2 separate regions of the Homo sapiens genome follow, and region 1 is linked to region 2. The links come from fine-mapping of genetic effects on gene expression. A gene starts in region 2. The other region holds a variant in brackets. All regions are shown on one strand. Distances are between the middles of the regions. Region 1 overlaps RAD51B (RAD51 paralog B). Region 2 holds the start of RAD51B (RAD51 paralog B).

Region 1 (5,385 bases), 160 kb before region 2:
TAGTTTAGCCACAGGAAAGCCAAAAATGTGCAAATAATAGCCCAAATCATAGACTGATATTATAAATCATCCTAAAACACAAACTTAATGAAATCTGAGATCGCTATAAGGAAAAGTCAAATACTCCTCTTATAAAACTCTAAAACCAAACATTCTACCTATGGCTTTAGGGGGAAAATAAGGAAGAGGAACAAAAAGGCACAGAAATAGAAAAAGCCATAAAAGAAGATACAAGGGAATGCTGGTAGAAACTAACAATGTAAATACAATGATATCTTATCAAGATCACAGAACTAAATTTAAAGTGGCCGAAAGAACTGGAGCTTTATTTCCCATGGGCTCTCAGGCTTTGTTCTCCAGGGCTTGTGCAAAGTATGCCAAGAATATTATGGAACACAATTAACCACAATGTTATTTTTAGGCAGTAGGTGTACTTACATTTTGATTGATATCATTACCTGACTTTAACTTTTCTTGGTGAATAACAAGAAGAAGCTAACACAAAATTTCAATTATTGCCCTTTCTTTGTGAATCAAATCCATAAAACTTCCAAGAGGGAGAAGATAAAAGTAAATTCCTTATTCAACTTATCTTTGCCAAAGGGCTTGGCCAGGCCCATAGCTGAAGCAGGCTAGGGATCAGAGACCTTGAATTGCTTGCTACTTAATACCTGTTCTGCTCTAGGCAACACTGAAAGTTTTGCTTTGATAGTTCAAGGCTAAAAGCCAATTCTGATAGTTGGCCGGAGGGAACTTTTTAAAGTTAATCTCTTCATACAGCAATGTTTCTTCAGGAAAATAATAAAATGTAGTTCCAAACTGTCCTGCAGTCCCAGCTCATCCTCATGAATGTCTCTAGCAGTTAAAATTCACTCAAAAAGGATTTTTTACATACAGGTGAATCAACATTTCTAGTTTTTCAATCAACCAGGATACACTCACAGCACACTACAATAAAGATGCGAGAAGTAAAAGGATTTTGCTGTCAGAAAATTGGAATTCTAGTTGGAAAGACATATTCACCCACTTAAACTAATTAAAAATAAAGAAAGGCACTGTTTGGTACTGAGTGTTAATGCAACGAGAATTCAAAGATTAAAAACTAGAGTTGATTCCTGACTTTTTAATGATTGCCATTCTAACTGGTGTGAGATGGTATCTCATTGTGGTTTTGATTTGCATTTCTCTGATGGCCAGTGATGATGAGCATTTTTTCATGTGTTTTTTGGCTCCATAAATGTCTTCTTTTGAGAAGTGTCTGTTCATATCCTTCGCCCACTTGTTGATGAGGTTGTTTGTTTTTTTCTTGTAAATTTGTTTGAGTTCATTGTAGATTCTGGATATTAGCCCTCTGTCAGATGAGTAGGTTGCAAAAATTTTCTCCCATTCTGTACGATGCCTGTTCACTCTGATGGTAGTTTCTTTTGCTGTGCAGAAGCTCTTTAGTTTAATTAGATCCCATTTGTCAATTTTGGCTTTTGTTGCCATTGCTTTTGGTGTTTTAGACATGAAGTCCTTGCCCATGCCTATGTCCTGAATTGTATTGCCTAGGTTTTCTTCTAGGGTTTTTATGGTTTTAGGTCTAATATGTAAGTCTTTAATCCGACGAGTTAATGGGTGCAGCACACCAACATGGCACATGTATACATATGTAACAAACCTGCACGTTGTGCACATGTATCCTAAAACTTAAAGTATAATAATAATAAAAATATATAAAATAAAATTAAAAAACAAAAAACAAAAAACTAGAGTTGAGCCAAGTGGAGTGGCTCACACCTGTAATTCCAGCATGCTGGGAGGCCAACATGAGAGGATCGCTTGAGCCCAGGAGCTCAAGACCAGCCTGGGCAACATAGGGAGACCCCATCACTACGAAAATTTTTAAAAATTATCTTGGCAAGGTAGCATGCATCTGTGGTCCCAGCTACTCAGGAGGCTGAGGCACGAAGATTGCTTGAGCCCAGGAGGTCCAGGCTGCAGTGAGCCATAATCACGCCACTGCACTCCAGCCTGGACAGCAGAGTGAGACCTTGTCTCAAAACACAAACAACAACAACCAAAAAAAAAAAAATCAAGCGAAAACAAAAACAACTGGAGTGGGCCAGAAAAGTCCAAACTGGGTTTATGAAAGAGGTGCAAGAAACATAAAGAATTTGAGTGGAGAACAAGAATCAACAACATTTGAAAAAGCAAGGAATATAAGCATTACAGATGAGGGAATAAAGCATTAATAAAGGTAAGAAAGTAAAACTGAACATGATATTAGGGATGGGGATAAGGTTTGGTCTGTTAAATCAAGTTTACCCTAAAGCTGCCTCCTTACATATTTTAAATTCAGCCTAAAGGTTTCTCTACACAGTGTGAACTATAATCTAAAAGGATGTGTAAACAGACTGTAATCTGCTCTTGTGACAATCACTGAGTTTTGGCCAAAGGGGGCCAACTGTTCAAACTACGTTCAAATAAGGCAAATGCGGAGCTGTAACCAATCCAGCTGTTTCTGTACCTCTATTTTGTTTTCTGTAC[G/A]TCACTTTCCTTTTTCTGTCCATAAATCTTCCAGCACGTGGCTGCAATGGAGTCTCTCTCAGACTACTCGGGTTCAAGAAGCCGCCAGATTTGCTCAATTAAACTGAGTTATATTTAATTTGGTTAAGGATTGTCTTTTAACAGGTCTAAAGTATAAACAACCAGTTTAAGTAAAATAGGTATATCTGTTAAGGTTTATGGTTGAATAAATATGATAAGGCTGGTTTATGGAAGGCTTTGAATGCCAAGGAGACCAACAGAAATTTGATTAGGCCAATGAGAGTCACAACTGGTTATTAATAAGGGAAGCAGCAGCATAAATTTCTTTTGAAAGGGTGGTTTTACAAACAGCATGGGGGTAAGGATTGGAAGCCAGCAAAGAAGATGGTGGAGCCCATTAGGTGCTAAGTGATAAGAACCTCAACTTGAATAACAGCATTCATTTGTGCACCATTCAATAATATTTATCGGATGTCTGAATGTTCATCATTCACATGTGAATAAGACAGATACGATATTACTAGCCCACAGAAACCATTAGGTAATAAATGTTCATTGTTTAAAGCGGCTAAGTTTTAGGGTAATTTGTTATGGCAATTGATAACTAATACAGATGTGAAGCCAGCAAAGCAGATATCAACTCTCCAAAAGTGGGAGAGAAACCAAAAAAAGCACACTACCACTGAAGACCAAAAATAATTTCAAAAATAAATAGTAGATTAGTAGTCAGTATCACATATAAAAGAGGAATATAGGATGATGAACATCTTTTAAAATGTTATTAAAGTTGATACAGTTCACAACTAATTAAAAATTATAAGAGATATACAAGAAAATACATATCATAATTGATTACCAAATTGTTTTTTCCATAAAAAGAGAATGAGTAGGGAAAAAGTGTACACAACTGATAAACACCTCAAATTTAAACAATTTATATTCCTAAGTCTATGGGTCGACCATTAACTGATTAAATATCTAGTGAAGTATAAGTCTCATGTACTGTAGTAAGTTTAAACAAAAATTTCACTTGTTTTGATCTAATACCCTAACTTTAGGCCTATACCCTCCTTATGACAAAAGAAAAAGCTTTGAATTTATTCAAACCTTTATCATATCACCTACCATATGTTGCTATAAATTATTTACATGTTCCCCATCCTAACTACAGTATAAGTTCCTCCAAAGTAGGAACCTTTAGTTTATTCATCTTTGAAGTCTCAGTACATAGATCAATATCTAGTCCATAAAAGATATTCAGTTGCTAACTGAAAGTTACTGAATTTAGTAGAAAAACAATGGCTTTTAAACATATTCATGTACCATCTATCATTTTTGAAGTAATAGGAGTTTTCTTTCATTACTGTCTCTGCTGGATAGTATCTCTTCATTGTAATTCCCTAAAATTTAGCCTGGTCCCATTTGTCTACCTTAGAACACTAGTCAAGGTCCTTCCACAAGACTTTCATGAGTTTCAAGGTCTTCATTTCTTTTGTATTTAATATTCAATCTTAACTTAGTTCTAACACAAACCTCCGTTTTAATTATATTGAACTGAACAATCCTGAACCCATATTATTTCATGTTTTTCTTCCCAGATCATCTCAAATTTTGACTTGGAATGTCAAAGCATTTATCTGAATCTAAAATTCCATATTCCCTTGTATATGCAAGTTGATAAATGCCTGAATAAAGTAATTAAGTGGCTATGTTTAGAAGAAACATAAGTAGAAACATAAGAAATAAGAAAATGAGGTGAAGTTACAAAAATTAACATTTAAAATAAACATTGGATGCTTGCTTTTTAAATGTCTATTTGTGAAACAACTAAATTTTGAATTTTTAAAATGGTCCTGATACACCAAATTAATCTAAAACTTTGCCACTTAAAATATAAATAGGCTACTACTGATCTTAAAGAGCTGTAATCAGGACAAATTCTTACATTGAAAATGTTTGTGGGCATTTACTCAGAACAGCTGCCACCCAGGATGACTAAAATAACACAAATTAGATGTAATTGAGTTAAGGGACCACACCAGGTTTGTAATTCAATTTGTCCTATGTGGTTTGGATTTGGGTTTTCTTTTTCCCCTCCAGCAAACCACAGTTTGAAAACTTCATCAAATGGGAAGTACAAAGGAATAGGAATATATAATGCAAATGTTTATCATGAACAATTTACATAAAATCCACTTTAACAGTTTAGACATAGTTTTTTGTGTGTGTGTGCTGTCTGATGGCAGCAAACATCACTTCAACATTGTTTAAGTTTCCTTTGAGGGTCCTATTCACTAAAACTTCTTGCTGCCAATTTCTCATTTTATCACAATTTATCCTAGCTGTAAAGTAAATTTTATTTTGTTCTAATTTCCTAACTTTGCACACTATTTACCTACAAGGTCAAAGCAGATTCCAGGTTGAATTCAAGCTCACTTACAGACTTCAGTCCAAAATCCTTAGGGTCAGTAATGAAAGTCAAAGGTAGAGCCAGAATTTTTACCAGGGTGTACCTTTCAGCAGCCTTAGATATGGTTGATTATAAGTTGCTGATAGATATGGCCAATTACATTGTCATCACTGTGTTGATAATTTTGATTTCTATGTGTCTAACCAGCATAGACCTGCCCCTAGACGAATGTTTAGATAAGATGCCCTGAAACTAACCAATCCCTACCCTTGTTGGGATCTACTCATACAAGAGAATGATCACTGAGGGATGTTTAGGAAAAGAGTTCAGCTTAGAAATTTAGTGTTGCCTCTCACCATGCCCTTTCCATTAGATGTCATGGGTTTCAAGCAAAATTTGAGATAAAGAGTTTTCCAAATCAGTATTTTGTTCAAACGGTTCCCAAT
Region 2 (5,385 bases):
CAATATAGTTATCAGAAAAGAAGTAACATTTTGGAATGAAAATATATGTATACTGAGAATGTATATATTTGTTTATTTCCAATACCATGGCCCAAATTTCTATTTAACACCTAAATTCTCTGAATCAGACTGAATCAATCTCTCTCTCTCACACACACACACACGCACACACAATATACATACATACACACCTCTCACAAACAAAAATACATCCTCCTCATTTCTCTCCATGGGAATTTGTTAGCAATGACTTGTTTCCCCCAGTAGAAAACCAAGTGATACCTGCTATAATATTGCCTAGTGTCTTTTCAGATCAGGTAGTTTCAAGTAATGACACCATTTAGACTGATAAATTCAATTTAAAAAAAAAAAGAAGGAGAAAGAAAAGAACCATAGGCCACACAAGGTAGCTCACGCCTACAATCCCAGCACTTTGGGAGGCTAAGGCAGGCAAATTGCTTGAGCCCAGGAGTTTGAGACCAGCCTGGGCAACATAGAGAGAACCTGTCTCCACAAAAAAATACAAAAATTAGCTGGGCATTGTGCCGCACACCTGTAGTAGTCCTAGCTACCCAGGAGGCTGAGATGAGAGGATCACCTGAGCCCAGGAGGTCGAGCCTGCAGTGAGCTGTGGTCATGCCACTGCACTCTAGCCTGGGGAACAGACTGAGACCCTATCAAAAACAAAAAACAAACAAACAAAAAACTATAAATTCTAAACTACAAGGACTTTAACAACAACCAATTCTGCCATTTCTGCCTTAATAGGGCCACTCCCATCACTTGCCTGGACTATTGCATATTGTTTCTGGCCACTCCATTCATTTGTTCCTTAATTTACTCCTTCCACAGGCATTTAAATACACACCCTGCTGAGGTCTGGGGTACAAGAATCATTTAAGCATATTCCCTCCCCTTTGAATACTCATAGTTGAGATGAAAAGAGAGGTACACACAAATAACTACAGCCATGCAGTAAGCATTACAATTGCTATTTAAAAGTGCTATGGAAGCAGACAGGAAGAAGCCCCAAATTCGCCTGCAAAAGTCAGATCAGTGTCACAATCCTGCCTTGAGTAGCTTCCTAAAAAGTCACGATTATCCTTTAACACTTCCCATGGGACTGGTAGACCACAGGATAAATTCCAAACTTCTTAGGGTCGCAGAGAAAAACATCAAAAATTGGTCCCTCACTTCCTTCTCACTCATACATCACATTGCAACGTTCAGTTCCTATCCTTCCTGGCAGTTACTTCACCTCTCAGTGTCTTAATTTCCTTAAAACCCTTGTTTTACAGTCATATGAATTTACTACTTCATATGACTGTAGTGGAGGTTAAAGGACTCGGGGAGTGCGTGGCACATAGTACTTAAGGTCAGCAATCATCATTTAATGACTCTCACATGATCTGCCCTCCAGCCACATGGTATGTGTATTGGTAGGTCACGCATCCTGTCTCCCTGACTTCCCTCCACAAAACCTTCCCCAGAGTCAAGTCTTTTCCTCTCCAATGTTCTCATCAACTTCGCACATATCTATTCGATAATCTTATCAAAATACTATTATGGCTTGCAAGTTTGTTTGCCCCCACCGGAGCACGTAAATTCCTGCGGTGTATGTGTGCGCGAAAGCACGTATGTGTATTGCACATGAGGGGAGACGGTCAACCCTGGAGAATGAACCCTGTCCTCCTTACCACCAAGAAAAGAAAATTCTTCATGTTAGATGTTCAACAACTGTTTAGGAACAATATTAGCTAATATTTATTGAGCCCTTATTACGTGCCACACTGTTCCAAAGGCTTCGGATATTTTACCTCACTTTACAGATAAGGATACTGAGGTAACTAGTTGAGAAACTTGGGCAAAGTTAAACAGCTGACAATTGGTGTGAAGCTCGCATTCGAATCCAGGGACCGGACTCCAGATTCCACGCTCTCCAACACCACCTGAAGTGGGAGAGTCCCTCAACTTCCCCTAATGACAGGCTGCCCGAAGCGGGAAGGGGCTGGGGAGGAAGATGGGCAGCAACAGGCGGAAACATCACCCAGAATCCCCTAAAAAGAGCTTTTTCCAACAATGAGCAGCTTCCAAGCATTCCCCACCAAAAGAAGGCCCGAAGCTCCCCCAATTCACAGCGGGGTTCTTAGTGACGATCCCGAGTCTTAAGGGGGCGTGACCAGCACCCAAGAGAAAATCTCCGCTCCCCCAATATCGAAACCCACGAGCCTAGGGAAGGAGCAGGAAATAATGAGCGAACCCCACTTCCCCACAACGGCACCCCACATGAAACTTTCCAGTACCGGGTCTGCAGCATCCAACTTTCAAGTTTCCCCACCCTTTACACAGTTTCCCCGCGGAAAACGCCGCAAAGCAACAACCGAAGCACTGATTGAGTCGTCATTCTGGCTACTGTATCCAATCAGAGGCCGGCAGAGGCCCAGGTTGGCTCCGCGGCTTGCTGGGAATTGTAGTTAATACTATGATCAGCCTAACAGATCGAATCTGAAGCAGTTTCTCAATATAGTGATTATCAAAATCTGTTGCAGGACCATCACCAAAGAGAATGTGAAACAAGGGAACACCCTGTTTGGAAATTTTTCTTTTTTCTTTCTTTTTTTTTTTTTTTGAGACGGGGTCTCGCTCTGTCGCCCAGGCTGGAGTGCAGTGGCGCGATCTCGGCTCACTGCAAGCTCCGCCTCCTGGGTTCACGCCATTCTCCTGCCTCAACCTCCCTAGTAGCTGGGACTACAGGCTCCCACCACCACGCCCGGCTAATTTTTTTGTATTTTTAGTAGAGACGGGGTTTCACCGTGTTAGCCAGGATGGTCTCGATTTCCTGACCTCGTGATCCGCCCGCTTCGGCCTCCCAAAGCGCTGGGATTACAGGCGTGATCCACCGCTCTCGGCCCTGGAAATCTTTTTTTTCGTGTATCATCACTTTTCACAATGGCTTAAAGGGGCCAGACGCAGTGGCTCACGCCCGTAATTTCAGCACTTTGGGAGACCGAGGCGGGAGGATCACTTGAGCCTGGGAGTTCGAGACTAGCCTTGGCAACATAGTGAGACACCCTCCCCCACCCCTCCGCCTCTACAAAAAAATACAAAAAATAGGCTGGGCGCGGTGGCTCATGCCTGTAATCCCAGCACTTTTGAAACTGCCCGATGGGTTCACCTTACCAGCTGCCTAGACAGAACCGATTTATCAGGACAGGGGAATTGCAATGCAGAAAGAGTAATTCACGCAGAGCCAGCTGTGCGGAAGACTGAAGTTTTATTGTTACTTAAATCAGTTGTCCCGAGCATTTGCGGATCGGAGTTTTTACCAATAATTTGGCTGGTAGGGGCTTAGGAAGTGGGGAGTGCTGATTGGTCAGGTTGGAGATGGAATCATAAGGGGTCGAAGTGAGGTTTTCTTAATGTCTTCTGTTCCTGGGTGTGATGGCAAAACTGGTTGCGCCAAATTACTGGTCTGAGTGGTGTCAGCTGATCCATGGAGTGCAGGGTCTACAAAATATCTCAAGCACTGATCTTAGGGCTTGCAATAGTGATGTCACCCCCGGGAGCAATTTGGGGAGGTTCAGACTCTTGGAGCCAGAGGCTGCATGACCTCTAAACTGTAATTTCTAAACTTGTAGCTAATTTGTTAGTCCTGCAAAGGCAGACTGGTCCCCAGGCAAGAAGTGGGTCTTTTCGGAAAGGGCTGTTATCAATTTTGTTTCAGAGTCAAACCATGAACTGAATTCCTCCCCAAAGTTAGTTCAGCCTACGCCCAGGAATGAACAAGGACAGCTTAACGGTTAGAAGCAAGATAGAGTCGGTTAGGTCTGATTTCTTTCACTGTCATAATTTCCTCAGTTATAATTTTGCAAAGGCGGTTTCACTTCGGAATGCTGAGGCAGGCAGATCACTTGAGCTCAGGATTTCGAAACCAGCCTGGCCAACATGGCGAAACCCCGCCTCTACTAAACATACAAAAATTAGCCAGACATGGTGGCAGGCACCTGTGATCCCAGCTACTTGGGAGGCTGAGGTGAGAGGAGCCAGACATTGCCTCAAAAAAAAAAAAAACCTTAATGGGCCAGAAAGCCATGTTACTTTTCTCAGGAATCGAGGACAATCCACCAATCACAGAAGAGTTTTTGGAAGAAAACGTTTTGTTTGTTTTAACTTGCTCTTTTCACCACCCTTTGGTGATTAAATAGTTTGGGAAATGCTGAATGAAATTACTAAACCTGAAACACACATAGTGAGGAAAGCTGAGAGTCTGTGATTAAAGCACACCAGGGAAACCAAACAAAAGGCTTGGTGTAAGGCAGCTGTGGTGAGCAAACCTAGTAAGCCGTTACTTCAAGAGTTGGTTTCAGGCTGGGAACGGTGGCTCACGCCCGTAATCCCAGAACTTTGGGAGGCCGAGGTGGGCGGATTGCCTGAGGTCAGGAGTTCGAGACCAGCCTGGCCAACATGGTGAACCCCTGTCTCTATTAAAAATACAAAAATTAGCCGGGTGTGGTGGCGCGCGCCTGTAAATCCCAGCTACTCAGTGAGGCTGAGGCAGAAGAATCGCTTATCCCAGCTACACAGTGAGGCTGAGGCAGGAGAATCGCTTAAACCCGGGAGACGGAGGTTGCAGCGAGCCGAGATCGCGCCATTGCACTCCAGCCTGGGAGACAGAGCGAGACTCTGTCTCAAAACAAAAGACTTGGTTTCAGATTATTGTGTTTGCGAAAAAGCCTTTGCTCATTCTTTGCTCTCTGATCTCTTATGCATACTTCTGTCTTATAATTTAGCCCACCGTCTCCTAATTTTTGGCCTGCATCTCCCTTGAGAAGAAGGACCTCCATTTACTCAACTTAGAGAATAGGGCCTAAGCCCGGTGTAGTGGCGCGCGCCTCTAGTCCCAGCTACTACAGGAAGGCTGAGGCTTAAGGATTACTTGATCCAGGAAGTTCGAGGCTGCCATGAGCCGAGATCACACCACCGCACTCCAGCGACAGAGAGACTCTGTCTCTAAAAAAATAAAATAAAGCCTAGCACACCGTTCAATTAACAGTTGTAGGGTAAATGTGCAAATAAATGAATGGAGTGAAGCAGAAGAATATGGAAATTCAGACCGCAGAGTTCCGGAACAAAAGAGCCCAGTAGATAGAATAATAATGGAGGAGAACCCAGTTCTCCTAGCTCCGGGTATCCCCCGCGCCTGGCAAAACACCATCACTGGTTGGCGTTCAATAAATGTTGACTTCACATGTTAAGGAGATAAGAGAGTGGAAGAAAAAAAAAAATCCAGGGTCACAGTTCTTCCTGCCACCTGCTCGGCCGAATGCAGAACTGAAAGTATTGAGCGCCGGAGCTGTCACAATTGAGGGAGATGGTCCGCAGCCA

The links.
Region 1: its variant is fine-mapped to the expression of RAD51B in whole blood (TOPMed, PIP above 0.99).

The regions. Positions count from the first base shown.
Region 1 is chr14:67,972,790-67,978,174 of GRCh38, reverse strand. The region is part of intron 7 of RAD51B (RAD51 paralog B); the gene reads right to left. Among named protein-coding and RNA genes, the nearest start is that of RAD51B, 160 kb to the right of the region's middle. The variant G/A (reference allele first, on the strand shown) is at 2,530.
Region 2 is chr14:67,816,772-67,822,156 of GRCh38, reverse strand. It overlaps RAD51B (RAD51 paralog B), which reads right to left and starts at 2,378. Exons shown (of 11, transcript NM_133510.4): 1 at 2,304-2,378. RefSeq lists enhancers at 1,230-1,991, 2,251-2,545, 5,036-5,135, 5,186-5,355.